Regions from separate parts of the Homo sapiens genome. Here regions 2, 3, 4, 5 and 6 are each linked to region 1. The links come from fine-mapping of genetic effects on gene expression. A gene starts in region 1. Each other region holds a variant in brackets. All regions are shown on one strand. Distances are between the middles of the regions.

Region 1 (5,399 bases):
GGGAAAGCAGTCCAATTTCAGATCCCTCATGTGTTGCGAAATGGGCATAAATATAGTGCACACAAGGTTTCTAAATATTTTAAGTCTCTTCCTGGATTCACCAATGTATATTTCACCAACATATATATGAAATTGTAACTTGTTAAACTTCTCTGTTACTTCAAGTTTCACTCTTGTCTTTTTAGAGGATACGCAAACCTCATTTCATCATTTCTACTCTAGAGACTGCTTATTTGGTAGAATGAAAAAGTACAACTTGGATAGTAAACTACTGTATTCAGATTTTGCACAAAAACAACAAAATACAATCTAAAAAAATTTGAGTTGGAGAAGAATCATAGGTCAAATATGTGTAAAAAGTAGTGGCAGTAGCTGGTAAGTTAAACCACTCACCGGCTATAATGCTGTTCAGCAGTTACCACTGTTTGGATTATTGGACATTTCCTGAGTAGTGGGAAATGTTTGGATGAAAAGCCAGTAGCTAATTATTAACTCTCTTTACATTACCTCCCTTCTGAAAAAAGCTCTGCTTGCTGATAATCAACTTCTAAATCATCTTCATAAAACTTAACAATGCTTGGCCATCTAAGGCAGGTCTAAACTAGCTGGCTCTACCCTGTTTTTAGTGGTAAAAATGCTAAATTAACTAGTACTAATAACCATGCCAGCAGTAAAAACACTGAACAATTGAATATCAATGATATGTTAAAGCCAGCTGTTAATTAACCCATTAATAAGGTGATTTTCTTTCACACAGAGATTCTATCGATACACTTTCCCCCCACCTTCTTCCATTTTTCACCATTTCAACTTTCCCCCACCCCAATCAGTAACTGGTAAAAAAGATCTGACCATGAGTTCATTATTGGGAAAATCTTACAAAATGCTATATTTCAAGCTTTTTCTAAATTGGATACAACTTTGCATTTCCACTATGTTTTTAAGTCCCCTCCTTAAAAATACACATTTATGTACAAATAACAATACTATATTTTGCATCTTAAAAGTAGACTGCCCTGTGATATTTACAGAGAAAATGTTCACCATTCCTTTCTACGTTTCAAAATATCCCTCCTCTTGGGTGCTGACATAGAAACATCATTTTGGAACAAGTGGCAGTTTCGTCTTGCATCCCTGCCTTTTCTTGTTCTGCATGGGAAAAAAGCCTAAATAGTAGACAGCAAGAAAATTCAATAATGTCCACTCTGGAACAACCCGAGGGTAGGAATTTTGCATATGTATCAGGCGCCCTATAAGCATCACCCTCCCATCCCATGCCATAAAAAAGGGTGGAGGGGAGGAAATATTCAGCAAAGTCCTAATATACAATGTGTATTGTAAAAACAACTTTAATTTTAAAAGTGAATTCTACCTTCTAAGGTTTTCAGTGCTGCCTCACTCCTACTCCTAGGGTGAAGGACTTTGGAGAGACACGAAAACTAATTCATATCAAAACCAGAACGCGAAACTCCTGCCTGCCCCGTAGCCTGGCCTGAGTACCTGGAATGCCCGAAAGTGGATGGGCGCTCTCTCTTCCTATCTGGCCCATGGCTCTGAGGACCTCCCTCCCCGCTCCAAGCCCCAAGCCCGCGAGCAGGAGATGCTCAGAGAAAAGCGAGTCGCTCACCAGTGAGGAGCCAGCAGCAGGCGACAGCGACCCCTGGGCGGGCGCGGGGCCGAGGGGCCATGGCCGGAGCAGCCTCAGCGCCAGGGGGCCGCGCTGGTTCGCAGGGCAGGACCGGGCGCGGGAGCTGCGCTCTCTGGCTGGGCCACTTATCCCGCTGCCGCGGTTCCCAGTCCTCTGCCCCAGTGGCAGCGGCGCCCAGGAGCGGGAGAGGAGTGATTTCCTGTGTTTTCGTCGAATTCCTCTAAATGCGCTCCACGCTTTTCACATCCCAGACGGATTGCCACATCGCCCGCCCCTTCGCGCTCTTGGTCTCTGAAATCTCACTGGCAGCTTCCCAGGCTCTGTCCGAGACATGGACAAATAAAGCCAGCTTCGCGGGTCCGTGTTTAGGCTAAAGTCCACGGGCTGTAGAAGCAAACCTTAAAGGGACATCTGCCTTTCATTGAGAGGGTGATCTCGTTCTCCGGGCCAAATCCCCTAAGGTGGTAGGAAGGCGGGTAAGGGCTGGACCTTCGGGAGGGTGTTGCCAGCCCAGTGGCTCCGCCTTCACACCCCTTACTTCTCCCGGCCCGGGCAGGGAGGGCGCTTTGACAGTGCCTGGGCGCCCTTAACGGGAGGCAGCTTTCCCGGGTCCATTGCGCAGAGGGATTAGGCCGTCTGTGAAAATGCGAGGATCTGGAATCCCCCCTTCCATCCCCTGCGGACACTTGAAATTCACCGTGAAGTCGTTTTGCACGAAAGGGGGCGTCCCCACCACCCCGACAGGCTCCACTGAGGGCTTTGCTTTCGCTTATGGGGGGGTGGGGGGGTTGCTTCGTTTATGGTAATTCGTGGTTAAAGGGTGGTTGCAGATAAGCTTTTCTTTGAGATAACTAGGATAAGGGGAGAAAAGGAGAAGCAAGACGGAGGAAAAACAGTAAGAGGGAGAGCGAGAAGGGAAGAGAGGAAGAAAAGCAGCCTCCTTGGAAATGGAATGTGTGTGGGCTATTTTGTTTAAGTGAATTAGGATGTTTGTACGCTGGTAATTGAATCTAATAAAGAACTCGGGGCACTACTTTATTTTTTTCTTGCTTGAAACTTTCACGAGTGAAAATGCATTAAGAGTCCAGAAGTGCTTAGGAACTTGCAATGCTTCCCTTTCCTGGTGAGTTGAACAACCTCTCTGAGTCAAAAGCCATATTCACCCTAGCTTCAACCAATGCTGGCTATTTTCAAAATAGCTGTGTCTTAGCGGTTTTGAGAATTTCAAAGACAGAAAGAATAAGTGGATTTGTGTTTAGAGGAATCTGAGGGAAACAGTTCAATTCAATTCTTCAACTCAACAACTAATTGAGCATCTCTAGCAGAACTAGGGCTAGGCAGGACAAGAGTGCCACCCAAAGGAGGGTTCGTTGAGCAGAACGCAACACAGGTAGCACAGAACAGGTAACACGAGGGACAGGAAGGAAGAAGCCCACAGGGTTCACTGGATACATTGCCAGATAGAGGATCACAGCAACTAAAAGCTGGAGAAGACAAAAGTTGAAGAAGTTTAAGGAGCGTCAAAAATGGGGTGGGCAGACCCAAGGAGGTTGAAGGCCATCAGATCTCAGTATGTTGACCCATTAATCAAGAAATTCCTTTTCTATTATGTATCTGAACTGATTCACTATTTAGTAAATACATTAAAAATCTCGTTCTCCCGTTTTTAGTTTTTATAATGTCATTTCTCAGTTCTGTCTTCAAATTTACACAAATGAGTCTCTAGAAAAATTGTATTATGTTGGGTCACAGTTCAATCCCATTGGACTTTACTTAAGTTCCTTTGTTTGTGTTCAATGCTCTCATACCCTGCCAAGGAATTCATTTCCTGTGTATATCTCGTTTCCCTGTTGGTAGTATCAGTTATGTCTTATGCCTCTCAGTATGACTCTCTGTGCTTTGAACAGTAACCAATAGATATTGATTAATTCGTAGACATTTAAAAATCATAGTAAGTACTTTCCCAATGATATTTCTCCAAATTGCTTAGTTTTCAAAAACATATAATAGTGTGTCTATATATACACAATCATGTGTATGTATGTATGTGTACATATATATGTACAGCATATACATACATATGCAAATACATATATGGCATTTTAGCAAATTGCAATATATTTCATTAGAAAAAACAAAAAGAAATTGTAAAATATTGAAATAAAGTAGGGTTAACATATAATATGTTCAAGTTTACAATTACTGGGAAATTTACCTTTCTTCTGGGGGCTAATATATAATTTCAATTTTAATATTTTTATTTCCTCTAGGACTTACAAATTATTGGTGATAACCATCACTAACAGTGATATTGTTACAATTAATTTTCACAAGTTACAAATTTTATGTTTACATGTTTACATATTTATGAATCTTTTATATGTCTAGTCAATACAAATGTAGAGACTGAGAGATAACTATGGTTAGAGAATTAATTTTAGAATCAGTGCTTATTTTCTGAACTTCAATAAACCCAAATACAAATAAATGTCAAGCCGGTTATTTTCTTAACCAATTTTATTCTGACTGACAGAAAGACATGTCATTGAGTAAAGATTTAGAGAAGACAGAAACTTGCCCAGAGTCACAAACTAGTTATTGATATGAGACACTTGATGACAAATGTTTCAGCTCTAGACTTTATACTACATACTTTTCTATTTTAAATGAGACTTGATTTGATCAGATCTCTTTAAGGGTTTGGAAGCATGAGTAGGAGCATGAACCTTATTGTGAACTGCACACGCTTCTTATGAGAATCTAATGCCTGATGATCTGTCACTGTCTCCCATCATCCCCAGATGAAAACGTCTAGTTGCAGGAAAACAGGCTGAGGGCTCCCACTGATTCTACATTATGGTGAGTTTTATAATTACTTCATTATATATTATAACATAATTATAATGGGAATAAAGTGCACAATGAATGTAATGTGTTTGAATCATCTTGAAACCGTTTCCCCTACCCCTGGTCTGTGGAAAAAATGCCTTCTATGAAACCGGTCTCTCTGCCAAAACGGTTGGGGATGGCTGCACTGAAAGATTAGAGACTGAACTGATTAAGAATTTGGAAAGTGGATGTCTATGAAATGAGGCAAGAGTAATTGAGATTATTAACCAATAATCTCAAAAAGAAAAACATATACTTAAAACCAAAGTATTCTTCTTGGAGTTAATCTAATATACTGAGTAAAGTAACTAGAGTAAGTAAGGTTCTGGAGTTACGCTGCTTGGACTCAAGTCCTGGAACCACAATATAGTAGCTGTGTGATTTGGGAAACGTCATCAAGTTTATCTAAGCCTCAGTTTTCTCAAATGTAAAGTGGGAATGAAAATACTGTACTACTTCTGGTCTGAGAATTGCTGTGGGGATTAAATGAACCGAGCCTCTGAGCATTTAGCACAATGCCTGGATTAAAGTAAGTGCTCGGTTAGTATGAATCATTCTTCTCTGTAAATAGAAGAATTGGTATTAAACAGACCATGTAAACAGGGCAGGCTCTGCGTGTGGTAGACCCTGTAGGAAGTGGTGAAATTTGATGGCCATCAGAAGAGGAACTTTAATGTCCGCCTAAAAATATCTCCATCAACTCCTATTATTATTTCTGGAATCCTCGCTTTAAAAATATTTACCTTGGATTAGGGAATTATCTTGAAGATAGTTCTATAAAATGGGTATGCATGAAGACATCAGAACCCATTATAACGTTCACATGAATTTGCTTTTCAAATTGGCTGGCCGTCAGAGGTTT
Region 2 (5,399 bases), 50 kb before region 1:
GGGACAGTGAGTTATCTTACTTCTTTTTTGTTTATTTATATGTTTAATAATTCCAGTGGAAATTAGAGAACTGAAAATCATTTCTTTAACCTTGTATACTATTTCTGCTTTCCTGACCCATGAAACTACCTATTGTGCATACTAACAAAAATAACCATAGGATTGGCAATGTGTTGCCAGCTCACATATCTTACTGAGAAGAAATTATATGTTAATTAATAAAATTCATTTAAAAGAACCTGCTAATAAAGGTACAACTTTTTCTTCAGGTTCTTTCTTTTAAGGCATGAATGGACAGAGTACATAGGACAGTTGGGTAAGACTTGACCCTGAGATTGAACCAATGACATCCTAAAAGTGTGCAGAAGACAGTAACCAGTTACCTAATGTTCAAATAGTACAAGAAGAGCCAAAAGCTATTCTCCCTTTCCCTAATAGTGCAATTTGGAGTTTGGAGCTAAAATTGTTTCGTGAAAACACATTCAGATGTAAATAAAAATAAAATAGAAATGAATGAAAACAAAAAACATATTCAAATATACCTCAAAGTATTTATTTAGATTATTGAAATTTAGGAGCCAAAGTAAAAAGTTTTTTAGAAATATGATCATTCATATGCCTTACGGTATCACCTATAACATATAACATATAACAGGTATTCTTCACTTAGTGAAATTCCAACATATGAAAAAATCTATTAAATTATGTTGTGACTTTGTTGTTGTTGTTGTAGTTGTTGTTTTTGTTTTGAGGCAGGGTCTCACTCAGTCACCCAGCCTAGGATGCAGTGGTGCAATCATGGCTCACTGCAGCCTCGGCCTCGCCAGCTCAAGTGATTCTTCCACCTCAGCCTCCCAAGTAGCTAAGACCAGAGGCACATGCCACCATGCCTGGTTAATTTTTGTATTTTTTGTATAGAAAAGTGCTCGTCACGTTGCCCAGACTGGTTTTGAACTCCTGGGCTCGAGTGATCCGCCTGCCTCGGCCTCCTGAAGTGCTGGGATTACAGGCGTGAGTCACCACACCTGACTCAATGTTGTGATTATTTAGACTGGAAAATAATTACTGGCATTTTAAGTTATCTACCACATTATTTCAAAAATGAAGCATGCCTAGACTTTTACAAATGTTTTAACTTGTATACAAGGTTTTCAAGACATAATCAAAACATAAAATGAGGCCTACCTATGTTTTATTTTGCTGTGGGACTTAAAGAGGTATTAGATTTAGTTTGACCTCTCTTTTTTTATTTGCCATATTTCTCAGAAACAGGAGGCAAAATATACGGATTCATAACATTTCTTTTGTGATGGAATTCAACTGACTAAATACTTTCTGGTTTAACACACAAGTGGTCAATCATTAACATTAATAAATTAAGGTCTTCATGAAGCTAACTAACAAAATGAAATACTGTGCACACTCTGACAGTGTACCTCAACCAAAACCAAAAACCTATTAAAAAAAATTGTCCATCCTAGAGTCACCTAGTAGCTTTAACTAGCAATTCCATATTCAGAGATGCCATTGTTGATTTTCCTATGGTATGTAATAGACTATTTTTCTCAATGTCTCAGTACTGCTTCTAATCATACACTGCCACTTAAACTAAAATGATTCTGTATAATTTCTCTCCCTTCCTTGCTTCTTCCCAGCTACTTATTATAGCAATTTTCCATTATATCATTCACTACCAAATATTTCCTTCATTCAGAAGTTTTTCGGTTCCTCTGCTCAACTAAAAACTTGTCCATTTTATGAAGAGAAAATAAGCCAAACGAATGTAACTTGTTATTCACCTGAAAACGCTTAGAAAAGAAATCAGAAAGTATTTTAAAGGGCATTAAAGTTTGTTTATAAGAAAATAAGAAAAGTCTCAGTAGCTTGGAATGTTGAAATATTTCAGAAGGCAAGGGTCACTAGAATGCTTATTTTTGTTTCAGAGGAAAGAGATAACTTTTTGATGCTTTCTTTTCTGTTTTGAGATAACTCTAAACTTTGTTTTCTTAGTTATAATTGCTGTTGCTAAGACCAGGATGATCTTTCAGCACTTAGAACATTAGTTGGGCAGTAACATCCTTCGATCCAAACTCTATTTCTATCTAGTAGCATCATCTTTTACATTCTTTCCATTAGTCTACAAGAGTATCTTGAAACTGAAGTAACTGCAGATGTTATAGTCAATATCCCCAAGAACCGGCAGCCAATATTTCCCTTAAATGGAAGCATTCTGATACTTAGAATCACAACACTAGTGACTAAGTATTTGTTATATATAAGGATCTTAAAATTCAGGGTAGAGGTTACATTTGCATGGGAGAAGGGGAGGAAAAAATAGGGTCTAAAAGGGAATAAAAACATGGCTTTAACTTTATATGTTTTTAGAGGGAAATGCTAACTTTCCACTTCTGACATTTCCTTCCATGGGGTGAGTGCCTCACCGGTTGTAATACTTCTCGGCTATTTCTCAACCTGCCCTTCCTTCACACTAATTGATTGGTGAGTCTGGAAGGAGACACTGTGTGGCCAGCCCCATCCTCTCTTTCTCATTTTCTTTTAGAACTGAGCCTGCCTAC[G/A]TTAAGAAAATGCTTTGCTTTGTTCGTCCAGTGTCAGGCTCTCGGCTGGCGCTGGAGTGTAGACAGCCTCCTCTACGGTTCAGTAGTGGGAATTTAATTCATCAGCCATGCTGATTCATCAGTCTGATTCTTTGTCATTTCCCAATTGGTTCTGATCTCAAGTGAGGAAGAGGTTTGGTCTTTACTGGACTTTCTCAAAAATCCTAATAAAGTTTTATTTCTTATGAAAAATAAACAATTACAGAAAAATGTTTAGATTTTGCAAAGCTGGGTAGAGGGCACATTGCTATTTGATATATTATTCCTCATAATTTTCTCGTTTGCTTGAAGCATTTTATGATAAAAATGCCTTTAAATTTTCCTGTATAATTATCATTATACATTTGAAGACGTAGTAACAGGATACTTCTCTAAGATTTTCTAATTTTATCAAAATTGTCCCCTATTTTCTTAACTATTTCAACAATGAAATCACAGTGCCATTCTTGCTTCTTAGAGAAGCAAAAAATGCACAAAATAGAAGAGCTTGATTGAATGACCTTTATTATCTTTATACATGCTCTAAAATCTTAATACTTTCAGCCACATTGAGATCAAGGAATGGGCCAGGAGCAGCAGATCTGAGAAGGCACAAGTAGACAAAGGCAGAGATTTGCTAATTTCAGAGGTAGGCAAAATGAACAACCAAGTGGCGGAAATCTGGCCAAGGGTGATTTGTTATGGGAGCTGTCATCTCGCATTCATATTCTGGTGTACATGACTGAGATTCAACTTCCAAGGCGGGACCAAAAAAAGACAAAGATTTTGGAAATCAAATTGGCACTATATTATGATTAAAGTTCAATTTGCTTACACAAATGTACTGGCCAGAAAAGATACTGACTTGCTAGAATTTTCACTAGTTCCTCTTTCCATAATTTTGTCAGGACTTGTCCACAGTCCACTTTCTTATTTTATGTACTGGCTCTGTGCTATTTTGTCTGGATGGACCATTGCCTCTTCAGAGATGTGCAAATAATCCTCACCATGGAACTGAAATTTTCTGTAAGAAAGAGACACATGTGCTGCTCCAGGAACTCATAATTCCTTACTCTGGGAGAAATTTAATAAATACGGAAGTAAATTAAGTAACACTTACTGACTTTCTACTGGCCATTTCTAGTTCATGAAGATTAAGCATTCAGGGAAGATGCAAAATAAATAGGTCATCGCCCAATTTAGGATTGGTCAGCATGCAAGAGGTAGACTGAACATCTATTTCTAATGATATCAAGAAAATATAAAGATGGAAGAAAGAAATGCCAAGGTGTTTCTACAATTATCGGCAAAGTTCAACAGGATATAGAAAGATAAATGCAGATAAATAAGAATGTGCATTGGACAATTTTCCTTATGTATTGCAATTTTCGAAAGCTTTCTAACATCAATCATTTCTCACCATTCCATATATTCTTGCAACTCCTTGCTTTTAAGTTGTGATTTGAATCTTGAAAAGGGCAGAAATTAGAACAAACGAACCAATAACAACAACAAAAAGAACACCTTGTGACATCAATGGAATCTAATAACTAATTTCTTCAGAAGGGTTTCTTGTATCAAAATATATACACACACACATCTATAAATTCATCACCCAATAAATGCTGTCCCACTTTTTAAGCACCATTTTAGACCCATTAAAATGAGGGCTCATTTGACCTTTCCAATCTCATTACTACTCTGGCTCAGAATGTCAAGTAATGGCCACCCTTCAATATGCGCAGTTCCCTGAAACATCTTGTATTCTCAATCGAACTTCTGCTAAAGTTTTCCCCACTTCTGGAAATTCCTTTCTTCAATTCTTAGCCTGGTGAACTCTCCCCAACTCCCCCGTTGATAATCATTCTTCCTCTGTTTTTGCAGAACTTGTACACATTTATCCCATAGGATGTATCGCTTTATATTAAAGGTAACTGGTTTACATGTACTAGTCTCCTGTTAGACTGGGAATTCCTTAGAGTACTTAAAAATAAGAACTTATATTCTCATTCTCAACGCCTAGCACAGTTCTGGATATGATTAAGAAGGCTTATTAGCTCTTAATATCCGTTTTTTTCATTAGTAATAAAATCTTTACTTGGGGCAGCAGTGTACACAGCCAGAAGACAACAGGTAGATAGCATAGCTGTACGACTAAATACTGGCCCAAAAAAAGTAAGTGGAAGTATTGTATGGGATATCCCAGAAATCCCCTGTGCAGAACTGATTCAACTCAGAATGCCTTTTACGTCCTTCTACTTTCTCTTTTATCCTTCTTCTACCTTTCTTCTTTGTCCTTCTCTCAGTTATGAACTCTTGTATAATAGTTAGCGTTCACTCAATAGAGTGAATTGTGTCCCCTGAGATTCATATGTTGAAGCCCTAACCGCTAAAGTGACAGCATTTGGAAATAGGGCCTTTAGGGAAGTAATTAAGGTTAAATGAAATCACAACCACTGGGGCCCTAATCTGATAGGACCATTGTCCTTATAATAAAAGAAAGGGATACCAGATCTCTCTCTCTCTTTCTCTCCTTCCTTCCTTCCCCTTCCTTCCTTCCCCTTCTTTCTTTCTCTTTCTTTCTTTCTTTCTCTTTCTTTTTCTTTCTTTCTGTCTTTCTTTCTCTCCCTTTCTTTCTTCTTTCTCTCTCTTTCTTCTCTCTCTCTCTTTCTTTCTTTCTTCTCTCTTTCTCTCTCTCTTTCTCTTTCTTTCTCTTTCTTCCTCTCCCTTTCTTCTTTCTCTCTCTTTTTCCTTCCTTCCTTCTTTTTCTCTCTCTGTCTCTCTCTCCCTCTCTCTCTCTCCACC
Region 3 (5,399 bases), 140 kb before region 1:
TATCATTCTGGGATCGGACAATCAGCAGGTCCTTTTCAGTGGTGGCGACATGCAGGCTGAGGTCTGAGATACATTTTTCCTTATTTCCACAATCTTTGGCAAAGGGAATCTGAAATGATGACAGGAAAGAATTTTTCAAAATTTAGCTACGCATTGTTGAAAATTACCCATCAATTTGTGTAACAAAAATGGCATACAGCCAAAGTAAGTTAAGCAACTCATAAGGAGAATTTCCCTGCAAAAATCTTAAGGGATTTTATATTTATCCCTGTAATTTATAGGGGAGAAGAGTAAACATTTACTTACAAATGTAAATTGTGCTTGTCCTTTTAAGAACGCACAATTTTCATGGGTGCTTTGCACTGGCTTTTGTCTGCCAGGGAAGGACAGTTTTGAAATACAAAGTCAAGTACTGCAAGATCTAAATCTACTCAACTCTAATCATGAGATTTTTCTCTTAAAATTAATCAAATACTTAGGAATATCATAAAGCTCAGTTGAGAGGGTGGAAAACGGTCAAGCCACAAATCTAGGAGTTTTGCTTGATTCTTCTTCATTGACCGCCTCTCCACCACCACCATATGTAACTCACCAAGCCCTGTCCATTCTACTCCTCTTCTAAATATCTCTCCAATCCTTTCTTGCTTCTGCAGTCCCACCACCACCTCACACCCAAGCATTCTCATTTCCTCCCTGAACTAAAGTAATAGCTTCCCACGGGGCTCCCACATCCACCTGTTTCCCTCCAACCACTCTTCACTCTGCTGCATCCTGTCGTGTGGCTGAACCAAATAAAAACCTTCAAAAGCACTGCACTGCTCTTTCAAAAGTTTAGAATTTGTGCAGTGGCACCAAGTCCCGAATGACCCGGCCCCTGCCTTTACCTCCGGCCTCACCTCACGTCACCTCCTTTCTTGCTCTTTAGCGTCAGCCACACTAGCGAATGTCGTTGTTTCCTTCATGCTCAGGACTTTCACACTTAGCATCCCCTCTGCTCCCCAAACTCCCCTAAATAGGGTGGAAATCACCCTATCCTTCAGGGCTCCACTGAAATGGCACAACTTCAGGAGGGCTGTCCTGACTTCTCAGCCTAGGTGGAAGTTCCTAGAGAGCTCTGAAATCCTCCTCCATAGCATATGCTCTAATTACTACTTAATACCTGTTTCCAGTGTTAGACTGTAAGCTCCAATGCCTGGTATGTATAAGACAATCAATATATCTGGTAGGAAGGAAGGGAGAATGGAAGATAGGTGTATGGGGAAAAAGAATTCCCCATCCCTCATATCTCTTCCATTGGAGCCACGCTAGTGACACCCTCCCTCTTCTCTCCCCTCACTCCACTCTCAGGGGTGGCACATGGACTCTAACTTTGGGAACAGGAACTAAGTGAACACAACTCAGTCCCTTTCTCTCATTTCTATTCTCAGAGCAGCTGTACCCACAGGAAGCACACATTTGGCTCTACTCCATTTGACAAGTTTTACAAGGTGGGCTCCATGAAGAAGGACAGAGATGGATCAGCACTGCTGATGACCTAGGTGGTTACTGGTGGTCTAAGTCCATGCTTCAGCGTGAGGACACCCTTTATACCTAAACCATACACTGCAATCCAGTGCTTATTAGAATAATGGGGGAGATTTCTTTCCATTGGTCCTAAATTCAAATGAGGTAAAAATGAGTGTCATTTATTAGTTTTCTTAAACTCCAACAATAGGAAATTAGAAGGATTGGAAAAAGTCTAGAAGAGCCTAATTCTTTTTTAAAACATTTTAAATTGATTTAGGGTTATGTGTGCATGGGTTTCAAGCTTTTTCCTAATGTTACCAGGGCAAACCTGGAGATATGGCTGAGAAAGTTTACTATTTTCTTGAAGAGTAGATAACTGAGAAAGTTCATTATTTTGTTAAACAGTAGATAGCTGAGAAAGTGCATTATTTTTTCTTAAACAGTTTTTTTTTTTCTAGTCTATTTATCTGTAGGTAAGCTTGCTGAAAAACAACTATAGACGGCCTGGGAGCTTCAGGACCCTTTGCCAATTACCAGAGGAAGATAAAGCCATTGAGAAAACGGAGCAAACAAGAACCAGCAACCCCTTGTTACCTTTAGATCATTAACATGTCATTATAATGCTAAAGTCCCTGCCATAGAAGAAAATGGCCACCATTTCTTGAACATATGTTGTATAAGGAAGCATGTTTATGAGCTGTACTTGTACATCTGGAGTTCCTCTCTGGACATGCTTACATATACCTCCCTGCCCCACATCTAACTCCTTAAAATTCCCCAGGTTTTCACAGCTTGAAGAGAAGGTCTTTAGAGCAAGAGCTCCCTCTTTCTCCATTCCTGACCAGGAATAAAATCTGCTTGCCTTTTTTTTCTTTCTTCCAGTTAGTTGTTCGTTCTTTGTGATCAATGCAGAGTAGTGAAAAAACACAGTTTACTAGTGACATTAAAATGTTCACAAGTTGGTATTTTGTATTTTAAAGAAATCTGACTTACATATTCATGTACTGAGTTTGGTAGAGAATCATCAAGAACAGGCCCATTTTCTGGATCGGTAAGATTAAAGTCCAACGTTATTCTCACAGAGTCCTGAAAGTCATGCTTGTCCTAGAGGGTGAAACATAAAATATATCACTGGTATCATATTTACCGGGTGTTCTGATCTTGTTATGTCTCCTTCTTCTGTTCCCAAGGGTCAGGCTTACTGCAGCATTCTTGTGCATCTAATCTGACATATGATCTCATCAGGCTTTTGCTTCCCTGGAGAGGGATTGGCATTCTGACAAGGGGCATAGGGGAATGTGGAGGTTTCAGAGTATGACCTGTTGACTCACTTCCAGTTCCTCAGAGGGCCCTGCTGGAGTGATGGCAACATCACAC[T/C]TGGCTGTGTCAACATAGGAGCTACCTGCATCACAATATAGTTTTTCTTGAGACCTCAAGCCAAAGATCATTATGTAACACTTCCGGGAACATTTCCCAACTTCAGAAGGGCAAACTTTCTATAAAATGAGTTACATTTCATTAATATAATATATACCTACAGCTATAAGTTTTTGTTTGTTTGTTTGTTTGTTTGTTTGTTTGAGACAGAGTCTCTCTCTGTCACCCAGGCTGGAGTACAGCGGCACGATCTCGGCTCACTGCAACCTCCACTTCCCAGGTTCAAGTGATTCTCCTGCCTCAGCCTCCCGACTAGCTGGGATTACAGGCATGTGCCACCACACCCAGCTAATTTTTGTGTTTTTAGTAGAGACGGGGTTTCACCACGTTGGCCAGGCTGGTCTCGAACTCCTGACCTCAGGTGATCCACTCACCTCAGCCTCCCAAAGTGCTGGGATTACAGGCGTGAGCCACCATGCCTGGCCAAGAATTTTATAATGTAAAATTATTTGGAAAGGATGTGAATATGATTAATACTGTTAACATGCCACCAATAACAATAATCATTTATAGTATTCAAAATTATGAGCTTTATATACATTATTGCAAATTATTTCAACAGTCCTCTAAGATGAGTAACTATTATTGTCCTTATTTTACAGATGAAAGATTGACCCTCTAAGAGACCAAACGACGTTGCCAAAGTCTCTCAGAATGTGGAATATTTGGGATACAAATTCTACACTGGCTGACTCCAGAACAAATTTCAAAGTGCTTCTTTCAAAATCCAAAACAATTTTCGAAATTTTGAAAATATTTCAGTCCTTTAAACACCAGTACCTGGACATAACTTAGACACTGAATTTGTGGACAAACATAGACTGAGATGATTTTTAGCAGGTTGGAGACAATGCCATATCTGGTTTCATACCCATTCAAATTTTATCCACATTCTAATTCCTAAGTGTTCAGTTCTGATTAACTAAATAGGAGGGGCAACTCCAGTGTTATTTTACCAAATAATAGATTGATCTTGGTCCTGACAGAATAAGCTTCATGATAAGTATCATGAAGCATATCAACATGAAAATCACTGAGGAAGAACAAATGTGGCACAAAAGGGTGCACATTTTCTGTCACTCCCCTGCCCCTGAACTACAATTTTCAAAATACAGACTATGAATATATCAATAATACAGAAATAAGTCAGAAGTAGGAAAATTGGCCTGGTTCCTTTAAAGCTCCAAGTTTACCGTCAAGTCTCTAAGTCTTAATGTCAGTTACTAAAATCAGTTTCCTCATTACCTTCATGCTGCTTCTTGTTTTTATCACTCTCATGTACATTTTAAGAAAATGTTTAGGAAACTCCTGCCCTCTGTTGGGAACATTCCCCATATACACAGTGTCCCAACAAAATACATTTTAAATGATTCACACTGGCTTACCAGCCATCTCTAAACATTAATAGTTTGATTTCCAAAACTCCCTCATCCACTAAAATTAAAAAAAAAAAAAACTGAAGTAGCACAAAGCCTACAGATGATAGAAAATACCAGATAATTTTCCCCTTCGCTCTAAAATCAAACGGCGAGATATGTAGTTACATGGATCCCAGAAAGCATACAGCCCAGCAGTCTGCCCCCAGAGCAGTTAATCACTTACCAACCACAACTGACAGACAAGGCCCACAGAAATTAAATGTTTTCAAGTTGAAGGAATAAATGAATGAGTGAAAGAAATGAAGACATGAATAAGGTTTCTTGTCAACTAGAACACTGTGTCTTTTCCTGCCGTTCCATAATATATGGATGTCTGATAATGCAGACAGGGAAGACTAGAGATAGTTTTACAAATATTTGGAAATGAGAAAATTAGACCTGCGATTTTATGATAAAAATGAACAAACAAGATTTCCTTTATGACATCATAAGTGCATTTTGAAATAAAACAGTAAGAATTTGATTGACTTGAAATAAGACATCTCTACTGTATTCTTGATTTGGAATAAGGCAGCAACGATATATGATTTACTTGCCAACATGTAGAAGGAGTGCTTAGTGCATTCTGATTTTCGAACTGTGATGTTCCTTTGAACCTTTCTCTCTTGAGTTCCAGAGAAAAAACTTCGTGATATTTGTCTTAGTGAATCTAGGGTGACACGGTACTGCAAATCTACAAAAATTTTAAAAAATAATTGATGGAAATGTTTATTTGAAGTGATTCTCATATTGTACAGATTATTAAATTAGCATTATAGAAAAATCTCTTTGGCAATCAATCAAAAAAGATTCTATTGTTCAGCATATCCACACTGTTATAACAATGATATTAGCAGTCATGAAGATAACCTTGAGGAACTCTATAGAACTGGTCTCTGAGTTCACTGTGCTTTCAGTGTCTAATTACATTTATTGTTTATAATTCTTATACACACATGCACACCTGCCTATCATCTAATTGCCAGGCCACCACTGTATTTATTATATTTTCACTTAAAACATTCTTTTTAAGTTTAG
Region 4 (5,399 bases), 19 kb after region 1:
TTAATTATGAACATATGTTCATGCCATTGAATATACATTGACACCATCATTTTTAATTACAACATTTCATTACATAAATTTGCCATGTTATTTTCTGTTGGCCACTTAAGTAATTTCAAATTTTTCTTATCATAAACAGTGTTTTAATTGACATACTCATGTACCTAATCGGGTACACAGAGTGCAACAAAAGCACATGTAATGGACACTTAGCCCAGTATAAGGAAGTTAGCAAAAGGTTCTCAGAAGCGGAAACCTCCAAGATGAGACCTCAAAGCTGAGATCTGAGAAGCCCATCTGTAAATGATGAAGAAAAGTAAGCCGAACACCTTTTCTGAACCTAAGCTGAACACTCTTTTTGTTTATTCTTAATCTTTCTTTAATTATTAATTTAGTACAATATTTAGTTTCATGTTCTCACTGACCCTCAGAATTCAGAAATAAATCTTCTACTCTTTTCTCTCTTTTTCTCCCTCTCTGTCATATTAATAACAATGTGGTTATTTGCATAGGAACAATAAAACTTGTTCTCCTATTTTTCTGGCTATCATTGAATGAACTGATTATGCAACCAAGTTATTTGAATGTTTTGGAGTGCCGTATTTAGGAACAGTCTCCTTTAGTCAGATATAAAAACTGCATCAATAAAAAATAACGGTTGTGCTTAGGTAGACATACAGGATCAATGACTACAAAGCCATATGAAGAAACTGGTCAGATATCTGTTTTATGGCTTACAAAGGTCAACCTTACAGTTAATAAATTAGTTCACTTCCTCATAGCCCAGAAACCCTGACTATTTGGCGGGATCTTTTATTTATTTATTTATTTATTTATTTATTTATTTATTTATTGAGACGAAGTCTTGCTTTGTCGCCCAGGCTGGAGTGCAGTGGCTCCATCTCGCCTCACTGCAAGCTCTGCCTCCCGGGTTCACGCCATTCTCCTGCCTCAGCCTCCGGAGTAGCTGGGACTACAGGTGCCCGCCACCACGCCCAGCTAATTTTTTGTATTTTTAATAGAGTCGGGGTTTCACCGTGTTAGCCAGGATGGTCTCCATCTCCTGACCTCGTGATCCACCTGCCTTGGCCTCCCAAAGTGCTGGGATTACAGGCGTGAGCCACCGCGCCAGGCCCGGGATCTTAAAAAAAGAAAAGTTGACCAACGTTTTTCCCATATGTACTCATTAGAATCTTAACCATACCGTCTTCTCTATAGAACCTCAAAAGGTGATCATGGATTGATCATGAATCATGGATTAATGTGCCTTCAGTTTGGCCCAGTAGTTAGGAAAACCCAGGAATTACAAAGATCAGTAGAGAAAATAGTAAAGAAACATGAAAGATGAGACTCAAACATCATGATTTAAGTAAGAGACAGAAAAAAAAAGTAAAGGCTAAGTCAGACCCACATGAAAGATAAATTTCCACATTATAACACAGCTGTGGAGGGATCATGACATGAGCCAGAGAAAATTCAAAGTCAGGGATTAGGATTCCTAGATCACAAATAGTGATGTGCTGTGCTGGCTTTAAAATATTTCTGGCAGGGCGCAGTGGCTCATGCCTATAATTTCAGCACTTTGAGAGGCCGAGGTGGGCGGATCACCTGAGGTCAGGAGTTCAAGACCAGCCTGGCCAACATGGTGAAGCCCCCCTCTAGAAATATTAGCCGGGCGTGGTGGTGCATGACTGTAATCCCAGCTGCTTGGGAGGCTGAGGCAGGAGAATTGCTTGAAACTGGGAGGCGGAGGTTGCAGTGAGCCGAGGTCATACCATTGCACTCCAGCCTGGGAGACAGAGTGAGACTCTGTCTCAAAAAATAAGTAAATAAATAAAATAGTAATAATAATAATAAATAAAATAATGTTTCTGCCAACAGTTCAGTCATAAATCAAATAGGAATGTGGGCAAAATTGTATTAATATTTGCTTATTTTAGGTTGTCTAGAATTTTATAAATGGGTTTTGTTTAGATCATAGGAAATTATTGGCATATGAGGCAATACTTTTGTCTGTTGCCTCTATTTTGGGTGGGGTAGGTGGGTGACATTTGTATTGTGGCAAACAAACACTGCAGCATACAGGATACAGGTGCACAAAAGCTCAGGGTAAATAAGAGGAGCTAGAGGTTGTAAAGAAATATTCTACAGCAGGTCAACTCTGTCCATCTGACTTCCAGTGCAGACAGTCTGACATTTTTAGCAATATTTTAAAGACCAAAATAATGAAGTAAGTGTTTACCAGAAAGAAAGCTGAGAAGTTGGCTCAAACTTTGAAAAATTAATTTTGCTTTTTTCAGATAGAGCACTGTGATGAAAGAAGCTTTCAACAGTTTATTCAGATTCCAAGAGAATGTTGGTGTGCCTAGTGTCCAAATTCACCAGACAAGTTTTGCTGTGATTTTCCAAGCTAGGTTCATTTCATTATATGACAAAGGAAATGATCACCATTGTAAATAATTTTTCTGCCTGTGACCATATCTTACCAGTTTATGCAGGAATTTCAAGCAAAGTATGAAAAATTTGCTAATTTTTGTGCTATCAGGAAGATAGGAGGTGAAAGCATGTTGAAAAGAATTTAAACTACAAATTGATACCAAGGAATTTTTGGAGTTCAGAAAATCTGCAAGAACCAACTTGTCGGACCCCCCAGGACTCATAGTATGATTCTTGTTTCTTACTGATGTAAGAAGAGAATGCCACAGATTAAACTTAAAGTTAAGGGACAAATAAGCTAGACAAGAATAGCTCTGCTTTCTTTAAGGAAGTGAAATATTCACATTCAAACTGAACTTGTGGATTGACTCAATGCACATTTATTTCCTTTTTCTGATATTCCCTGAATTCAGTAGAGTTATAGATTGCCTAGATATACAGATATGTTGGGGTAAACAAAGGCCCAGTTATAGAGGAAGTTCTCAAGTTACAAGAAATCTGAAACACACTTTAAGTTCTGGCAGAGGCTCTTGGAAAATAAAGCTCAAGTTTTTTTTTTTTTTAATAATTACAGAAATGTGGTATATCTATAAGCCACAATATCCAAAGAAACTGATGAAACTGTGTTATGGTTTGAAGGTGTTCCCCAAATTTCATGTGTTGGTAACTTAATTCCCCAAATCTTATGTTGATGGTATTTGGAGATGG[G/A]AGATAGGAGATAATTAGGAGTAGATAAGGTCATAGGGTGGGGCCCTCTGATGAGACTGGTAACTATGTAAGAAGAGGAAGAAAGACTTGAGTTGGCATGCTGTTGCCCTCTCCTCATGCGATGCCCTTCACCATGATATGAGGCAGCAAGAAGGCCTTCACAAGATGCCAGTACCATGCTCTTAGACTTCTCAGCTGCCAGAAATGTGACGAATACATTCCTTTTCTTTATAAATTGCCCAGTTTGTGGTATTCAGTTATAGCAAAAGAAAATGAACTATGACAAACTGTAAGTGAACTTTTCTTAACAAGATGACATACTAATGCCATTTGGGAGATGAGTATATCTGTTTTGAAACTAATGATATACTCAGCTTATGGCCAAACACCTAGAAATTACCAACATAAATCAGAAAGTCATCTTTGGTGATGTTAACCTAGATTCAGAATTGGAGTGAGTCCTGAAAAATATTCTTTATCAATTTTAGGAATAAAAGATTCAACCCACACTAGTGGATTTCTGGTTACATGATGTGACAGTTAATATTGAGTGTCAACTTGACTGGATTGAAGGATGAAAAGTATTGTTTCTAGGTGTGTCTGTGAGCGTCTTGCCAAAGGAGATTAACATTTGAGTCAGTGGTCTGGGAGAGGCAGATCCACCCTCAATCGGGGAGGACACCATCTAATCAGCTGCCAGCATGGCTAGAATAAAAGCAGACAGAAGAACATGACAGGGTCTGATTTGCTGAGTGTTCTGGTCTTCATCTTTTCTCCTGTGCTGGTTGCTTCCTGCCCTAGAACATCAGACCCCAAGTTCTTCAGCTTTTGGACTCTTGGACTTACACCAGCGGTTTGCCAGGGGCTCTCAGGCCTTTGGCCAGAGACTAAAGGCTGCACTGTCAGCTTCCTTACTTTTGAGGTTTTGAGACTGGGACTGATCCACCACTGGCTTCCTCGCTCCTCAACTTGCAGACGACATATCGTGGGAGTTTACCTCTTGATCGTGAGTCAATTCTCCTTAATAAACTCCCTTTCCTATATACATATATCCTGTTTGTTCTGTCCCTCTAGAGAACCCTGACTAATAGACATGGTCATTGTTGAAAATTACCTGAAACAAGAGGCCGACTTGGTTAGGAGTCCCTTAGCATAGGCAGTTCCTTGAGATGTGGGAAAAAAAAAAGTAAACTTTTTAAAAATATAATTATATAATCTAATTTAGGCTAATATTTATATTCTGAAAGGGAATAATCTCTTGGTCACAGAGGAAGCTTTAAAAAAACATGAATTTCTCAGTAGTTCTTGTTTTGTTTTCAGAGACAAGGTTTCACTCTGTTGCCCAGGTTAGAGTAAGTGGTACAATCGTAGCTCACTGCATCCGTGATCTCCTGGGCTCAAGTGATCCTCCTGCCTCAGCCTCCCAAAGTGCTGGAATTGCAGGCATGAGCCACCATGCTCAGCCAGCTTTTTTATGTACCATGTGGTCTCATCTTACTTTCTGTTTTTGTCCTGTCTGGCTGTCTCCTCTATTCTCATTATTATCTGGACAATCTCATTAAATTAAAATTGAAATTTTAAACATATAAAAATTAAAATCTTATAACATCAAAAATTCAAAACAGAGCAAGTCTGGTTGCCATAATAAAAAGCTAGGTCACTCCCTAGCTTAGTGGGTTCAAGTTGTAGTGCCCTTAGGCCAAGCGCCTGGCAATGTCACCATGAATGGCTACTTCTTTGCAAGGAACAACTTACAACTGTTTCATTTATTGTGTAGTTGGTGGGTGTTAATGTGTGTTGTGTGATGGGTTGGTGGTGAGCAAGGAAGCTGCAGAGACATTAGGCATGAGATGTGTCTACTATGAGTTAGGAGTATTAGTAATAGTCTTTAGAGGAGAAAGCAAACAGGAAGCCCACAGCTTTCAATTACTATATATGAAGTGAGTTAATAATCATGACTATAAAATAGGAATCACAAACTCAAGTAAGGCTATGGGCTAATATATGAAAAAAAACAACTAATTTTAGTTGTTTCTACACAGAAACATATTGTATGCATATTAAAACATAATAATATAATTAATACAATATAATTAATTTATAAAATAAATGTGATTCTTCTCACTGTATTCTTTAAATTCATTATCACCTTAGTTTATTTTTTCCCCAATTTTGATGATGACATGAAGACACAAAACTATTCTACTTTAGTAAGATAAAAATGATGATCAAATTAGTATTGATTGGAAACTAAC
Region 5 (5,399 bases), 110 kb before region 1:
AGATATCTAATCTAATCCCCAGCCCTCTTTTTTAGGTATTCTGTGTCATAGCACATATCATACTGATAGTGATTGCTTGTTTCATTATTGTCTCTCACCCAAAAAAGTAAGGTTTATCAGTGTAGGAACTGACCTGCCCCATCTATCTTTTTATTCCCTATAAACTCAGTGTTTGGCACATTGCTGGTACTCAATATTTGTGCAGTGCTTTCTTAATCAACCCAGAATCAGTTATTTTGGTATCGTGATATAAACACTGACATAAGAATCAAGAAGCCTCAATTGTGGTTTCACACCTGCCATAGGCAGCTGGGACATAATTGTTCTATCTCTCAGTTTCTTGATTGGAAATTAAGACTACATGCTCCATAGGATCTCTTTTAATGCTAAAATTTGAAATGAATTTTAAGCCTAACCCCTATATTTTATATCACAATCCTCCAAATACCTAAAATACATGCAATGCACACTTTGTTTTCTAACCTTCAATTTCTTTAAGTTTTCGAGAGAGTGAGACTTGTAGCAGGGAATTGCTTCGGGAGCTGACTTTTCTGTGTAATATTTTACTGGCACATCCTAGTTTGTCATTTTCTCCTTGTAGTATGTGATACTTAGAACAACCAGATACTCTAGCTGTTGTCTGACCAGAGTGGAATGTAACAGGATTTCTATGAGAAACAGACTGGACTTTCATTCATGCAGTTCTACATGTCTTAAGAGATTTTAGCAGTCACAGTGCAGCTGCTGTTGACTGTTACATTTTTAGTCATCTAAAACTCTAGTCCTTTTATTCTTCTTAAGTCCTGCTGCTCCTACAGCTTTAATAGGTGTCCTTCAATAAGGAGATGTATAAACACCGCAGTAAAGACCTGCCACCTTCCTGATAAAATAGAAAGCAACTGGGACAGAGAGAAAAAGACTTGTCTCCGGGACAGAAAGATCCCAGAGAGGAAGGCTAACACGTGAAGCTGTGAATGCTTCCAGGCCAAGGTATGTGTTTTCTTTATCACTTTATTCCCAGCACTAAGATCAATGCCTGGGGCAAAAGAGGATCCCCCAAATATTTGTTGAGTGAGTAAGAGCTGGGAAGCCATATCCTGATGGTCCTTTTTATTTTAGGTCCTCCCAACTGTTGGTGAATATCTTTTTTCAGTGAGGGGAGAGTTCCCTGGCATCCCCCAGGTGTTGCTCAGCTTGGTATAGATCCCAAATAAAGTGGTACCAGACATACAACTCCTCATTTCTGGCAAGACACTGGGAAACAAGATCATGTTATATCACTGGGTTTAAGTTCAATATTTGTCTGATTGTGAATGGAGCTATTAAAGAAGAAGTTACATGACAAAATACATTTTTCTTTTCCCAAATTAGGACCCATAGAGAGAAATTAATGATAGAAGACATTTAAGACAATATGAGTTTGGTTTTCAGGATATAGGAGAAGTCGAGGTTTCCTTTTCTACTCTCATTTCTTGTCCACCAGGTTCAAAGTTCTCCTTGAAGTTAAAGTTGATACCAGACACAGAGAAACTGAACATATCAGAAAGGGCACATATCAACCTAAACCATTCCCTGCATTAGACAGCCCTACTAACAAAAAAGGACCCCCATGTATGTCATTTTGACTAACTAAAGCTGCTCAGAGGCCTAAAACTTTGCATGGGTTCTGGAAAATACCCAACTTGTTGAAATAATCCTGCTATATGGTTGCAAGCCTATAGAAACATAAGCAAATAATGCTAAAGGTAAAAAATGGAAAAGTAAAACAACTCTTTTATAATTATATCCAAACCTTACCTAAATAAGAAGCAAGCGGTTCATTCTTTTTGGTAGACTCAACATTAAAGGTTGTGTTTCGAGGGATTATGATTTGACTAGCCTTCTGCATGACAACTGTTCCATTCCAATCATAGGCTCCTACTGCTCCAAGCATGACCCAGTCCTTACATGCAAATAAATAAGATAATAATATTTAATAAAAATAATAAGGGGAAATACTTAAACACCATTAACAATGTGTATAGGTATACTGTTCAAAGTGCTTTACATTTGTTAGCTTATATAATCCTCATGATAACTCTATGAGTTAGATGCTATTGCTACCATACCTGTTTTACAGAAAAGGAAATCAAGGCACAAATAACTTACCCAAGTTATACAGTAAAATTGCACATGGAAATGTCAATATTCTTTTGCAAGGACCATTATGCCTTTTCTTTCATTAACTGCAAATGATATATTTTCTAATCTTGTCTTTCTACTTTATTCTGGGTGCCCAGCATCCTAGGTCTTGAACATGGAATTCTAATAAGACCCTTGAATTCCTTGACCTGTGGAAAAATATTCCACATCTGTAGCAAATATGTTAAATTATTTCATTTAGACAGATACATAATTACAAGGCAAAGCTCACACTGTCTGATTCACAACTATTAGTACAATGTAGTGAACTGTGTGAGAGAACATATTTTCTTAATAAGAAGCTTGTGAAATGATATTTTCCTATTTGAATTAGAAAACATCATCATAGCCTGCATAATTGTTCAAGCTATGAACTGCACGTTGCACTTACATACTGATGGCTAGATGTTGGTTTTGGGAAGGGAAGTCTTGCAAACATATATTTCATTTTTCACCAACTGGTCAACATACCTGTGAATAATGAGCACTGAAGCCAGTCTGAGACATTTCCATTTCAAATGAAGCTGCTGACTGGTCAGCTGTGGCTATAACATAGGAAAATATCACTGTAAATAAGTAACAATGCCTTTTCATGCACTACTGACTTGCAGAATACAGATACCTGGTAGAGCTTGTGGTCTTACCAACCAGAACTTCAAACATCTTAGGGCATTTTCAGCCATACATTTCTCAACCCAAAATTTC[T/C]AGGTAGGCCTGGGTAGAAGACAGAGAAAAATAGTCAAAGGGCTCATGTCTCAAATTCTTGTTCATTAGCAGCCCTGTCCTCGCCAGAGGGGTTGAGAAATCTCCATTCTTATACTGTAGCATGTTGTGGATCCTATGGTGCTTTGGGTCCACAAGGCTCAAGTTGGATGTACTACAGTAGGAAATTCCTGTCCAAATTCATGCCTTGGGAACCCTGCTGAGCCCTTAGGCTAAACTCCCTTAATATGTTATGGGACTGAAAAAAATTTCATTCACATATTTAAAGAGGTTTCTCAACTCCATCAGTCCCACCCATATTCAGGCCATAGATTCTGTCAGAATTTCATTGTGTGATAAAGGGTTTAGGTATTTTAGTATGCATTTATTTGCTCTAATTACTGGTGGTAAGTATCACTCACAGATCCAGAGGGGTCTTTGTGATAGGGCTGCCCACATGCCATTCAATCATACATTTTTAAAAGATCCTGTACCCATTTTGAAGCTCTTTACTGAAATGCAGAGATAATTCAGAGCATTCCATGGCAGTCTGCTACTCTCAAATTATTCTCAAAATATTCACAAACCCAAAGCCACAATTTCCTGAGGGAATTGATGGAATGTTGATTTATTTGCTTGCACTAGGGGTTACTGATTTATTTGGCCTTGCAGATAAGTTAAAAATAGCACTTAAGAAAGTCAGTCTGCCCTTTCGTTGAGGCAAGAGAATAATCAAATTTGTGAATGTAACTATTTGTTAGTTATTTACATGGATAAAATTGTGAACAAATACATCAGTAATTACCTTTGTAGGACTAGATTAGACGCGGCAGTGAAGAATTCAAATATATCATTTTAATCTCTTGTGTGAATTGCCCTGTAATTTAAATGACTGAGATGCATTTTAACTTTAATTTAAACATGTATTTTCAGTCCACAATGCTTTCAGGTGTTTTCTCACTTATCTGCAAGATCAATAAGAATGCAGCAACGGAAACCTGCATTATTTTCAGCACCTGCCCTGCCGCTATTCTGCCTTCAGCTGAGAACAGACAGAAGGACGCTATGTGATGTTCTTCCTGCTGCAGTGGCATCATGGTAATAGACCACTATATTCTCCTGGGCTTCTTGCTTCAAACTTCTCCCTGGACTGTTCATGGGTGTTTGGGCCAGCCACTCTAACCACTGTGCAGCCTCTGGTTAGAAATGTTGGCATTTTCTCCCAGTGCTCAACGGGAAATGGAGACAGTAGACTATTTTCTGATGTACTAAGCAAGTCCTTGGCATACTTGCCTCAATAGATGGCACTGTCCTTGGCAAACAGAAATTTCATAATCACAGCTACTTGTCATCTTAAGATACATGTTGACAGGAAATGGAGATTTCCCGAGCAACAAAGAAATAAAGCCTTTTTAAATATCTCATGAAAAAAATAAGAAATAGTCTAGTCAAAACACTGCTTTTGGTGTAGTGTAGCAACAAAGATGATATAGAAGACATTTGTAATCTGTAAAGTTCCTTATAAAATGATGTCATATTTAAATATAGAGACTTCTTGGAGTGTTTGGGCTCTTCAACCTGTCACCTTTAATCCATGGTGTAGTTAGGTTAGAAATAATCTGAAATGTCATTTCAGGCAATTGATCTCCCCCTCCCCTAGCTGAAGTGGGCTTCATTTTTGCCAGTTTTAGGTTACTTGCTTACTTAAAAGGAGATTTAGAAATGACACTGTATTCTGTTGAACTATCAAATGTAACTATGTAACTTTTCTTTTAAATTATTTTTACAGATTGTTTCTATCATATCTTAGCCCATGTTATTAAAAATTAAAAGTACACAATTAGTTGGAAGACCTTATGTATTTTCCTTAAGGCCAGCCAAGCTCATAATCTGGTTTATTGGTAAATGACACCGGGAGAGCTGTTGAGAGACCAAAGCCACTTAAAAATGACTTGTACACAGAGCACAAGACAGCTGAGTTCTTCAGAAGCAGCTGGGACTCCAGACTCATAAACAATTAGAGTGTTCTGTTTCTAAAGGCACAGGGGAAAGAGGCCAGGGGAAAAGGGAGGCACAGAAATTCAGTCTGGCTGGCCTGTAGATTCCTATCACCTCTAAATCAAATGTTCTAAGTACGGATTGTGACCCAGTCATGAAATCAACAGACTGAGTATAGCCAGCATTTTTTTTTCATTGAAAGAGATTAGGGTAGAATGGAATTGATGAGAAACCATCACAGTGCATCACATGTAATAAGAATTATCTTGTGAAACTTTGCCTTATTTTTATATGTATATATTTATGTGCACTGGGTCAAAAAGCAAAATGTAGTTATTATCGTGAGTCACACTCAAAAAAAGTTTGAAAGCCATAACTCTAAATAATTATCTTTCCTTTCTGTACATTTTCATATTCTAATTTTTCTGCATTTTCCCAGCCCCTTGACGCTCAATCAAAATGGTCTACTTTTTTTCAGTTGTGTCTCATTCCCATTTTGTCTTTCTGTTTCCTATTAT
Region 6 (5,399 bases), 43 kb after region 1:
TGTACTTAGGAATGTTCTCATGTTTGCATTATCTTTGAAAGGTCATTAAAGTCACATAAGTTTGTAATAACTTGATATTCATGTGGGGTCAGAAGTACATGCCGTTTAGACTGTGGTGCAATTTGAGGGACATTGGAGACAAGGATCATAACTCTGTTAGGTCTGGCTTCCTGCTACTTGTAGCCACACAGAGGTTTTCTGGGGCACAAAGCATACAAATTATGATTCTCTCTAAGTTGCTTTTATTACTCAAGGGAAAAATTAACTTCAGATGCAATTTGATATTAAGTTCTTCAAATATCACATTGATATGAAAATTATGAGTCTTATGGTTGGACAGAAAAATAATTATTATGCTTCTTGGTTCTGGACTTTTAAATATACCTAATCTGCTCACACCGCTTGCCACAGACATGCAAAGGATGATAGCAGGTTATAGCTTGAACTAAGGTATTTCCCCATAGCTCTCTGATTTCTGTGCTCAGTCTTCGGTATTCTGTTTTCATTTCACCAGCTCTTCAGTTCTTTAGCTTTTTCATTTTGTCTTGTGTCTCAGCTGTAGGCTCTCCTTGATTTTGTGATCTGCAGTTGGATCCTCTGCTGTTGGACCTTATTCCTTTCCCAATTCATTTTATTCAAATATTTTGCATTTTTTTCACCTGGCTGTTAGTGCTGTTTCCAGATAAGAGACACTTACTCTACTAGTTTTTGTTCCCAAGGACACACATCATCATCATCTTCTGGGCTGGACCCAGCCTAACAATCAGAATCAGACACTTCCATTTATCCAGTCATCTACCCTTTTGGATAGTCTGTCTATCTCTAAGATTATTGTTTTAGAAAACCTAGACTACATGATTTCTTCATTATAGTGGGTATCTCCTCAAATTTATAGGTTGAAGTCCTAACCCCAGTACCTCAGAATGTGAGCTTATTTGGATATAACATCACTGAAGATGTAATTCATTATGATGAGGTCATAGTAGACTAGGTGTAATGGTTAATACTGAATGTCAACTTGATTGGATTGAAGTATGCAAAGTATTGATCCTGGGTGTGTCTATGAGGGTGTGGCCAAGGAGATTAACATTTGAGTCAGTGTGCTGAGAAAGGCAGACCCACCCTTAACCTGTGTGGGCACAAGCTAATCAGCTACCAGCATGGCTAGAATATAAAACAGGTAGAAAAAAGTGTGAAAAGACGAGACTGGCCTAGCTTCCCAGCCTACATCTATCTCCCATGCTGGATGCTTCCTGTCCTTGAACACTGGACTCCAAGTTCTTCAGTTTTGGGACTCAGACTGGCTCTCCTTGCTCCTCAGCTTGCAGATGGCCTATTGTGGGACCTTGTGATCATGTAAGTTAATACTTAATAAACTCCCCATATATATATATAGAGAGAGAGTTTTGTCCCTCTAGAGAACCCTGACTAATACACTAGGGTAGGCCCCTAATTCAATATGACTAGTGTCCTTACAAAAAGGGAAATTTAGATACATAAATGCACACATGAAGAATACCATGTGCACATCAAGGCAGAGATGGGGTGATGCATCTATAAGTCAAGGAATGCCAAAGATTTCTGGCAAGCCACTAGATGCTAGGGGAGAGGCATGGAACAGATTCTTTCTCAGAAACCTCAGGAGGAACCAAACCTGCCAACACCTTGATCTTGGACTTTGATGTGGTTTGGCTGTGTCCCCATCCAAATCTCATCTTGAATTGTAGCTCCATAATCCCCATGTGTTGTGGAAGGGACCCAGTGGGAGGTAATTGAATCACGGGGGTGGGTTTCTCCTGTGCTGTTCTTGTGATAGTGACTTTGCTCCTCCTTCGCCTTCCACCATGATTGTGAGGCCTCCCCAGTTACGTGGAACTGTAAGTCTATTAAACCTATTTTTCTTGATAAATTACCCAGTCTCGGGTATTTCTTCATAGCAGTATGAAATTGGACTAATATAGACTTCAAACCTTCAGGGCAATACATTTCTGTTGTTTAAGCCAACCAGTGTGCGGTACTTTTTAAGGCAGACCTAGTAAACAATGCATGCTGTTAAACATAAAATTTGTATTCCTAGTTAGACAGAAGACCACTTCTTTTTTTCAAAATTATATTTTGAACTTGATTGATTATGTCACTTATCACATAGTCTCTATATTTTCTTGACCATCCAAATAAGTTGAATGATGAAAACTTTGTCATTTTTCTATATTTTGAAATATCAACTAGAATAATGTATATGAGATATGGACTATATATGAGATACGGAACACCCTCAGTTCACAAACTCCACCCACTTCATACACAACGTGCTTAGCAAGCAAATTAAATTCACAGATATACCAGTTTGAACTTATTTTGTTCTCATTTTCCTTTATTAGTGGTTTGACCCTGGCTTAACCTTGGTTTTGATTCCTTAAAAGGGATAAAATTTGGCCTAGCTCCCAGTTATATTTGGCCTTTTGCAAGTTGAGTCTTCCTTAGAACTTCCTTCCTCCCAATCCATGCCAATTAATTCATCAATCTTTTCTTAACTAACATTTCTGTAATCTCTGTGCATTTTTGTCAACTACTTCTGAGGCACCCATGTGAGTCAGCCACTGTGCTAGCACTGAAAATATAGCAGTAAGAAAGGAAAAAACAGCC[G/A]TCTGACACTGGGTTGAGGTTTACAGAAGAGTCACAGTGCAACCTTTTGTGGCTTGAATTTTTGTGCTGTCTTCTCTTTGCTGCAAACTGCTATGATTACTTTAGTGATGAACCAATTCAGGCTTGAGTATGTATCACCTACTTACTGACACAGAAGATCCTGAAATTCTGAGTATATAAAGCTAATGAATAAAAGGTATGGGATCAAAAATTTCTTCCAGGCTAATATCCCCACTACTCCAGCAACCTAAGCCACCCACTTCTCTTCTTTTTAATTATTAAAAACGTTTTTGTTTTTATACATGTACAGAGTTTAAGAAATCAGATAGAGATAAAAGTGCCCTGTTAGAAAGCAGTGGTCCCTTCTCCTACCCACTCTACCCAATGCTCCAGCCTTAGGCCCCAGAGCAACCATTTTCAACTCTTCAACTTTTTCACCCTATTTCCTCCACATTTATAGATAATATTACTGATATGTCTTCATATGTCACGATTATGTATGATTTACTAGCTTCCTTTGGTAGTCATTGAAAAATGTTGCGCTTCTCAGCATTCCCTTGCCATCACCACACCCCGACTTGCCTTTTCTTCAGCCTCCCAGCATAGCTCTACCACACATTCTCTTTAAACAAGCATGTTAGCATGGTTATGGTTACATAAATAACATCCATCGCTTTTCCAAGTTTATTTCTCAGACAACTTTTGGCTTTTCCTAGAGTTAATCATTGCCTTTTTGAAAAGACCTCAGTTTATAATGCAGACTTTGAATAATCACTCTATTTTTAGCTAAGTGCCTTCCCAGGGCCTTGCTTATCCTGATCTCTAGTGGCCCTAAACCCTGAGACCCTCAAGGCTTCTGCAGAGGGAAATGACTCACGGTCTTTGGTGCCTTTCCCCTGTGGAGACTTCAGCAGTCACTTCCTTTGCTCTATTCAGTCAGTAACCAGTCCTATATCTACTTTGCAGTATCAATACCACTTTTTCTACATTATAATTTTAAAGTAATTTAATAAAGAAAAAGAAGTTAACATGTATGTTCAGAGGCCCCAAATTCCTCTTAATAATAATAAATTTATCTCTTCTGGACTTAAGACTAACAGATGTCTCTCACAAAGCCACCACAGAGGTAGACTCATTAAATCTCATGTCAAACATCTAATATAAAATTCTACTCTTTTGGGTTTTTTTTTTTTTTACCTTCTCTCTGCCTGTCTCTCCCTTTCTCTCAACTTTTTCCATTTTCCCAGTGGCCCTTAGATTGAGGGAAAGAGGTAAAATTGTATAATCTGCTCACTGGGTGAATATATACCAATTGTTATACTAGAAAATTAGAGAGGCACCCAGGTGGCAATAACTTCCCTTATCTCAGTTCATCCATGACAAATGAAAGATTTTCTGAGATGATAAAGCAGCACAAATTATCCTAAAAAGAGAAAAGCTGTTCAAAATCACGAGTCCTAAGGGATGAGTTCATCATCTCGCTTCATTTTTACTGATAGCCTGAATTTACATGCCAATATGTTTGGATAATTAAATGAAATGCCTCCTTTAGTTCAGGTGTTATTAGACCAGTGAGATGGGGTCTAAATTGTGGCTTTTCAGCCAAATGTAAACTTTTGGGGTGAAAATTGCTTTCTTCTGCAGTTTATATTCCTGGACTACTTCATTTCTAATCTCGTTAATTGCTTGGCAGGTATATCACATATCAGGATTTTTGTTAAATAAATTAGCAGGAAGTACATACAGGAAAGTAATCTTATAATGGGTTAGTACTATCAAACACTGTCACCATAAAGACCACTAAGATTCGTGCTCAGAGTATTTTGAGACATGTTGGCTTCAGTTCAAGAATAATCTCTTTCTTGTTTTCAGCATAGGGTTTGACACATAGTACTTCAAAAATCCACCAAAGTTATTTTACCCTTGGCACCGCCTTATCTAGCCCAGGCAGAGGCAATTTCCAATGGTTGCACCCTAATTCTACCTTCCAGGAGAATGTGATTCCATCCTCTAGAAATTGCCCTGCCTCATGTATATGCATGGAACAAAAAGGTCCATGGTATCCCTAGGCATGTCTTCTATCATAAATGCACCACATCTGGGAGGAAAAGCCTCATTTTAAGACGCAATGTTGGGCACACTTTATATTTAGTGTGCCACAGTATCCCAAATGTCTAGCATAGAGTGAACATGAAAAATATTTGCTAATTGGCAGCATGTCTTTGCCATTTTGGAACTTACAGTCTAACTGGCAAAAGAAACCATATAACAAGAAGTTATAGTGAACTATGATAATTACAGAGGGAAGTGAGGGCCTCACAGGGAGGCACTTAATCCAGACCCGGGGAGTCAGGGAAGAGCTTCTGCAAAAAGTGGTGTCCAAGTGCAAACTGGAGGATGAATGGGGCTTACCAGCCAGGAGTGGCTGTGTGGGTAATGGAAGGAATATGGAGGGCAGGAGAGCGTTGCAGCAGAGAATGTCCCAGCAAGAAGGAATATTGTAAGATAAGGCTTGAAGAAGAGACAGAAACTGGAGAGGAAAGAAACTATGACTGGAGAGTAGAATAAGTGGTGTGGCTGAAAATAAAGAAGAAGAGACAATAAGGGAGAGCCATAAATCCATACGTAACAGTTTAGATTTTATTCTAAGAACCATGAGTAACTACTGAAGGGTTTTAAGCCAAGGAGTGACAGAATCTAGCATGTCAGCTGGCATGATGTTCTCACAGGGATTTGGATTCTTGATCTTCAGT

Alleles and levels. Alleles are on the strand shown, and positions count from the first base shown. SD is a standard deviation of normalised expression in the study named. Not every link is listed here.
For the expression in gastroesophageal junction of the gene that starts at base 2,126 in region 1, allele C in region 5 goes with a higher level than allele T (moderate effect, 0.41 SD a copy in GTEx).

What was found. PIP is the estimated chance that this variant, and not a neighbour inherited with it, causes the effect.
Region 2: its variant is fine-mapped to the expression of ITGA1 in whole blood (INTERVAL, PIP 0.97).
Region 3: its variant is fine-mapped to the expression of ITGA1 in whole blood (INTERVAL, PIP above 0.99). The same link has a PIP of 0.9 or more in neutrophils.
Region 4: its variant is fine-mapped to the expression of ITGA1 in whole blood (TOPMed, PIP above 0.99).
Region 5: its variant is fine-mapped to the expression of ITGA1 in gastroesophageal junction (GTEx, PIP above 0.99). The same link has a PIP of 0.9 or more in esophagus muscle, lung, sigmoid colon, spleen and stomach.
Region 6: its variant is fine-mapped to the expression of ITGA1 in whole blood (TOPMed, PIP above 0.99). The same link has a PIP of 0.9 or more in blood mononuclear cells.

The regions. Positions count from the first base shown.
Region 1 is chr5:52,784,643-52,790,041 of GRCh38, reverse strand. ITGA1 (integrin subunit alpha 1) reads right to left here and starts at 2,126. Exons shown (of 29, transcript NM_181501.2): 1 at 1,628-2,126. The coding sequence starts at 1,688. It overlaps PELO (pelota mRNA surveillance and ribosome rescue factor), which reads right to left and starts at 2,126. Exons shown (of 3, transcript NM_015946.5): 1 at 1,628-2,126. It overlaps PELO-AS1 (PELO antisense RNA 1), which reads left to right. Exons shown (of 5, transcript NR_186455.1): 2 at 4,450-4,507. RefSeq lists an enhancer at 2,159-2,438.
Region 2 is chr5:52,834,447-52,839,845 of GRCh38, reverse strand. All of the region lies in intron 1 of ITGA1 (integrin subunit alpha 1), which reads right to left. Among named protein-coding and RNA genes, the nearest start is that of PELO-AS1, 36 kb to the right of the region's middle. The variant G/A (reference allele first, on the strand shown) is at 2,577.
Region 3 is chr5:52,919,988-52,925,386 of GRCh38, reverse strand. ITGA1 (integrin subunit alpha 1) reads right to left here. Exons shown (of 29, transcript NM_181501.2): 17 at 4,919-5,055; 18 at 2,500-2,610; 19 at 1-109. Among named protein-coding and RNA genes, the nearest start is that of ITGA2, 67 kb to the left of the region's middle. The variant T/C (reference allele first, on the strand shown) is at 2,884.
Region 4 is chr5:52,765,357-52,770,755 of GRCh38, reverse strand. All of the region lies in intron 2 of PELO-AS1 (PELO antisense RNA 1), which reads left to right. Among named protein-coding and RNA genes, the nearest start is that of ITGA1, 20 kb to the left of the region's middle. The variant G/A (reference allele first, on the strand shown) is at 3,145.
Region 5 is chr5:52,894,782-52,900,180 of GRCh38, reverse strand. ITGA1 (integrin subunit alpha 1) reads right to left here. Exons shown (of 29, transcript NM_181501.2): 10 at 2,653-2,726; 11 at 1,798-1,942. Among named protein-coding and RNA genes, the nearest start is that of ITGA2, 92 kb to the left of the region's middle. The variant T/C (reference allele first, on the strand shown) is at 2,887.
Region 6 is chr5:52,741,322-52,746,720 of GRCh38, reverse strand. All of the region lies in intron 2 of PELO-AS1 (PELO antisense RNA 1), which reads left to right. Among named protein-coding and RNA genes, the nearest start is that of ITGA1, 44 kb to the left of the region's middle. The variant G/A (reference allele first, on the strand shown) is at 2,647.